Linked DNA regions of Homo sapiens: region 1 is linked to region 2. Evidence: fine-mapped expression QTL. A gene starts in region 2. The other region holds a variant in brackets. All regions are shown on one strand. Distances are between the middles of the regions. Region 1 overlaps NCBP3 (nuclear cap binding subunit 3). Region 2 holds the start of NCBP3 (nuclear cap binding subunit 3).

Evidence for each region. PIP is the estimated chance that this variant, and not a neighbour inherited with it, causes the effect.
Region 1: its variant is fine-mapped to the expression of NCBP3 in whole blood (TOPMed, PIP above 0.99). The same link has a PIP of 0.9 or more in blood mononuclear cells and lung.

Annotation. Positions count from the first base shown.
Region 1 is chr17:3,822,868-3,825,779 of GRCh38, forward strand. It overlaps NCBP3 (nuclear cap binding subunit 3), which reads right to left. Exons shown (of 13, transcript NM_001114118.3): 6 at 2,900-2,912; 7 at 2,075-2,183. Among named protein-coding and RNA genes, the nearest start is that of NCBP3, 22 kb to the right of the region's middle. The variant C/T (reference allele first, on the strand shown) is at 1,675.
Region 2 is chr17:3,844,920-3,847,831 of GRCh38, forward strand. It overlaps NCBP3 (nuclear cap binding subunit 3), which reads right to left and starts at 1,327. Exons shown (of 13, transcript NM_001114118.3): 1 at 1,122-1,327. The coding sequence starts at 1,304. RefSeq lists silencers at 1,026-1,315, 1,496-1,615.

The sequences.
Region 1 (2,912 bases), 22 kb before region 2:
AGATGTGGAGCAGGTAAGATGCAAAATGAGTCTGGAAAAGCAAGATGTTTTGTTGTGCCATAAAGAAAGAAAGTGCTTAAAGAATCATGGAGTATGTCAAAACAGCTTGAAGGGGCTCTACTGGCCAAATCCAAGACAATTTGTAAATTAAAATACTGATATTAGGCTGGGCGCGATGGCTCACGCCTGTAATCCCAGTACTTTGGGAGGCTGAGGCGGGCGGATCACAAGGTCAAGAGATCGAGACCATCCTGGCCAACATGGTGAACCCCATCTCTACTAAAAATACAAAAATTAGCTGGGCATGGTGGCATGCACCTGTAGTCCCAGCTACTAGGGAAGCTGAGACAGGAGAATTGCTTGAACCCAGGAGGCAGAGGTTGCAGGGAGGCAGAGGTTGCAGGGAGGCAGCGGTTGCAGTGAGCCAAGATCGCGCCACTGCACTCCAGCCTGGTGACAGAGCAACACTCCGTCTCAAAACAAACAAAAAAATAAATAAAATTAAATACTGATATCCATGGATGATAACCCACTGAATAAAGAATCCATGATTCTAAACTGATGTAAATAAACAAACAGGTAAAAACAGAAGGCTCTTCCTTAGAGCACCTGTCTACTGGTAAAGAAATGACATAGTCAGAAAGGCATGAAGCTCTGATGAGCAAGAGGCTATTTACGTGATCTCAAAGTATCTGCCCACCAATTTTTTATTTTAATCATTTTTTTATTTTTTAAAATAGGGATGAGGTCTTGCTATGTTGCCTAGCCTGGTCTCGAACTCCTGGGCTCAAGTGATCCTTCTGCCTCAGCATCCCAAAGTGTTGCAATTACAGGCACGAGCCACTGTAACCAGCCAGCCCACCAATTTTTAAATTACAAATGGAAGAATAGCAACTTTACAGTGGAAAAACCTAGTGATGATTACCTTAACCAAGTGAATAAAGTGAACGTCCCTAGGACTGGGACGAGTAAGTATCCAGGGCCTCCTGACATGATGCTCTGGAAATGACATGACATCGCTTCTGTGGCACGCCTGTCTCAAATGCACAACCCAAATTCAATCAGGAGGAATCATCAGACAAACCCAAACTGAGGGACATTGTATAAAATAGTAAACCTATATTCTTGGAAAACATGGGAGGATAGAAGTAGTTTCAGCTTAAGGGGGACTAAGGAAACATTACATACTTACACACTCAGTCCTGGATGGATCCTAGACCTGGGGCTGGGCGGGGAATATATAAAGGACATTATTGGAACAACTGACAAAATTTGAAAATCGACTACGGATTAGGTAACAGTACTGTATTAATGTTAAATTTCTTGATTTTGTTAAGTGTGCTATGTATAAAACAATGTTCTTATTCTTTGGAATACATTTAGGGGTGATGGGTTTTTATCTTCAACTAACTCTCAAATGATTAAAAAAACCAATATGTGTATATGTGTATAATACATATACATACATACATACATACACACACACATACACACACACATACACATACACACACATATACATACACACACATACATATATACACATACACATACATACATATACATACATACACATGCATACATACACACATACACGCGATACATACATACATATACATATATACACATACATACACATACATATATACACATACACACACATTTTTAAATGCC[C/T]ACCAAAAGTCACCATGTGTAAACAATCTTATGAGAAGGGAATTAGAACCGAATGGTACACTGGCAATGTTCAGGAGGACGTTGCTGTAATAAATAAAGTTTCATTTGAAAGTTTTCATAATTCAGATGGTAACTGGCTGAAAATATATGAGGCAAACCAGTTTCAACAGAAAATAACTTTAGCCAGAAGTCACAGAAATATACAAATAGTTAATATTCACTTTTAAAGTCAGAAATTCCAACTCAGGTGGCAAGCAATTATTTCATAAGCGCAGAATATTATAGTTTGAAGGGAACTTTGAGATTACTTGATCTAACTTCTATTCAAAAAAGAAGGATGTCACTCCATAATAAATCATTTTGATTGAAAATATAAAACAATACCAAATATTACATTTACCTTTTGTAGCAAATCTCATGAATAACCTATTTCCTTTAGCAAGTTTGTTAGCTGGACGAAGATCGTTTCTTAACAAAGACTCCTCTTCTACCTGAGACAACGTATCCAACTTAAGAAAGAAGAGTATTTTTAATATAAAAATTAAAGTCCTTTTGATATTTCTTCAGTAGTAAAGCTACCATTAAGAAAAGCATTCTACCTTTAATACTTACAAGCATTATAGCACTAGTTCCGCTGTAGAATTTCTAACTCAGAGATTTCCCCTGCCCACCTTGTCTAAAAGAACAGTCTCCATCATTCTCTATCCCCTACTCTTTTCACAACACTCATTGCCACCTGACACAGTATGAGATATCTGTGCATCAGTGTATCCTCTGCACTCCCCACTAGAATGCAGGCTCCGAGAGGGCCAGGACTTTGTTTTGCTTGAAGCTATATCCCTAGCACTTAGAATATGGTATATAATAGGTACTCAGTAAATATTTTTTAAATGAATGCATGTTAATATTTTTAACAACAGTACATAATCCATTAGGAAGTATGCCATTACTTGCTGTTTCTTCATTTTACTAATTAGATAACACTTCAAAGTATTTCTCAATAAAACTATTTTCTTTTTTTGTAGAAGCATAAGCACTATTCTAAGATTTCAAGGTGAATCGCTATATCCACACTAACTTAAAGGACAAGAGCCTGGTGCACCCTCAGAAGGTCTAATGGTGAAAGCTAGAGAAAAAACGTAACTAAGTCTTTAAGGCTTAAGTTAAAAAGACAGTGAGCAATTTTTTACAATAACTTTACATCTATCTTTCCCCTATTACTAACCTCTACATCACTT
Region 2 (2,912 bases):
GCGAACTCCGTCTCAAAACAAAACAAAACAAAAACCATGTTGAACTGAATGACTAAAGGGATGATAACACCTGCTTCACAACTGCAGTAATATTTATTTATTTTGGTTTTGTTTTTGAGATGGGGAGAGGGGAAAGGGGGGACCTCAAAGGGGTCTTGCTATATTGCTGAGGCTGGTCTGGAACTTAGACTCCTGAATAGCTGGCACTAAAGGCGTGCACGGCCAGTATATTTAAGTGACACAATATAGTGAATGGTAAATGCTACTATATTAGCTGTTGTTAATCATAATTATAACGTTTGCCATCTCTAGCGATCATACTTTAACCTTTCTCCATAACTTCAGTCTAAATATGTTGACATGTGGTCAAAAGTAATTCATGTTAGGTGAGAAATTAAGAGGAGTCATCCAGGCCTGAAACCAGCTCTGAGAACTGGATATACAGCCACCAAGTCACAAGCAAAACACCTCTCACCATCCCCAGCGCGGTAAAGGAGGGACCAAGGATGTCTATTGGTCGTCTGCTAGTTTGCTTTCATTAAGAGTCAGATGCTGGGGCCACGGTGTAGGTGTCACTGGAGCTGCGGGGGGGGCAAGATGACCCCGAAGTCACGACAGAAACAGTGAGTTTCTGCTGCTGACAAGTGCAGCCCTCTCAAGACAAAGAGCGAGTGCCATGTTTCCCAGATACAAATTCCTCCGGGGCAAGACCCACAAGGAGACCTGGTTGCTGGCGCCACCCAACAGCTCCTTCTGGGCTGCCCCTGGTTCTGTTCCCGCCCAGGGCTCCCCCTTTATCTCATCCTTCCAGCCCCTCCTCACTCACCTCCTTGCACAGCGCGGCTCAGAGGGGGCAGCGGAGGGGGGTCCTCAACTCCCTCCCAGCTCTCCGCCACCACCCCCCAGCCCCCTCAACACCCATTTCCGGCGCCCCGGCGTCCTTTCTCCCGCTCCGCGTCCCTCCTCCAGCCCGGCGTTCCCGTTCCCAGGACGCTGGCTCCCTCCTCTCCCGCTCCCTTGACTTCCCCGGCTGGGGCTCCGGCCACCGCCCCTTCCGGCCCCCTCCGGCGCTAGACACTAGCCCCGCGACCTCTTCCTTACCCCCCGACCCCCGCCCGTACCGGGATCAGTTCCTTGAGCGAGCGCCGCACAGGCACGATTTCCAGCTCGCCCTCCTCCACCTCCATGGGCTCCGGCTCGCCACGGTCAACACCGGACTCCGCCTCAGGGGACGGGAGCCCCAGGGCCGGCCCCGCCGGGGCCTCCGCCTTCACCGACACCCGCAGGCCCCGTACGGCCGCCATCGCTGCCTGCCGGCCGCACCACTGAGAGCCCGCCCCTCACGGCCGCCGGCTAGAGCGCCGCTGCCACTGGCCACAGAGGAGCCGCCGCAGCTACCTAGAGCGTCGCCGGCTTCGGCCCAGAAGGCCGCCCTTAGCGCCGCCGCCCCCTGGTGGCGGGAGAAAACCGGGCCGGCTGCGCGGGCGGGACCTGGGGAGGAGAAGGCGGGACTGAGCGGGGACGGGGGCGGGGCCTGCGGGAACTACGGAGCTTGGAGGAGACCGGGGTAGTCAAGGGTTACAATGTAGCTACGCCTTGAGGCTAAAGCTGTACTAAAAGCCAACTTTCCTGAGTGATCACTATGGGCCAGACACTTCCAAGCGCTCGAACCCTTAGAACAACTCTATGAAGTAGATCCTATTTTGACCCCCATTTCATATATGAGGAAACTGAGGCATAGAAATTGACCCAAGGTGACGCCATTTAAGGGATAAAAGCTGGATCTAAGTCTTCCAGAGTTTACAATGAGCCTTGATATATCACCTCTGGACAATCTGTAGGTTTATAAAGTTACTTGCCTTGCCAGTCTTTGTCTCTTAAAAGTCTCCCCAAAATTGGCCCATGTTACATACACAAAAATTGAGACTCCAAGAGGGAGAGACCTGCCCAAAGGCCAGAACTTGGACGCCGATTTCCTGACTCCTGAGGGTGCCATCCACTGTAGACCTGTGAGCATAGTTTCCGGCGGATATTTCTAACGAGAGCCTGGTGGGGGAGAGGGGTTGTCTACGCGTCCCGAGGGTGTCACTGATCAGCTGCTGTTCTGAGTCCTGATTTTCTTTTTCTTTCTTTCTTTCTTTCTTTATTCCTTTCTTCCTTCCTTTCTTTCTTCTTTTCTTTCTTTCTCTTTTCCTTCCTTCCTCCCTCTCCTCTTTCTTTCTTTCTTTCTTTTTTTTTTTTTTTTTTGTAGAGACAGGGTTTCACCATGTTGACTAAGCTGGTCTCGAATTCCTAACCTCAAGCGATCCACCCGCCTCGGCCTCCCAAAGTCTTGGGATTACAGGCATGAGCCACCGCGCCCGGCCTGAGTCCTGATTTTGCATCTTCCTCCCTGGGTAACCTTGGACAGGTTTTTGGGTCTGTTTTCCCATCTGAGGAGGGCATAGGTGAGACCCTACAGTCTCTGAGGCCCTGAGGCCCTACCAGCTCTGACCATGGAGGAGCAAATAATGATAAACCAAGGAAGAGCATGGTCAGCATCAGACACACCTGGGTTTCGAGCTGGCTGGCCGGGCCCCATCCACCATGTGTGACCTTAGGCAAGCTGCTTAGCACTTTGGAGTCTCAGTTCCTTCATCAGTAAAATGGACCATTACCTACCTACAAAGGAGGTTGTGAGGGTTAAATGTGATAATTTATATGTAGATACAGGGTCCAACAGAAGGGGTGCAGTACATCACAGTTTTTCTTAAATTTGGGCTAAACCACAGGATAAACACAAGACAGAGCTCTTTAGAGGACTAGTTTTATTTGATGAATGGGACACAAAGTACTTTTAAAAATTGGGTTGAGGCCGGGCACGGTGGCTCATGCCTGTAATCCCAACACTTTGGGAGGCCAAGGCGGGCAGA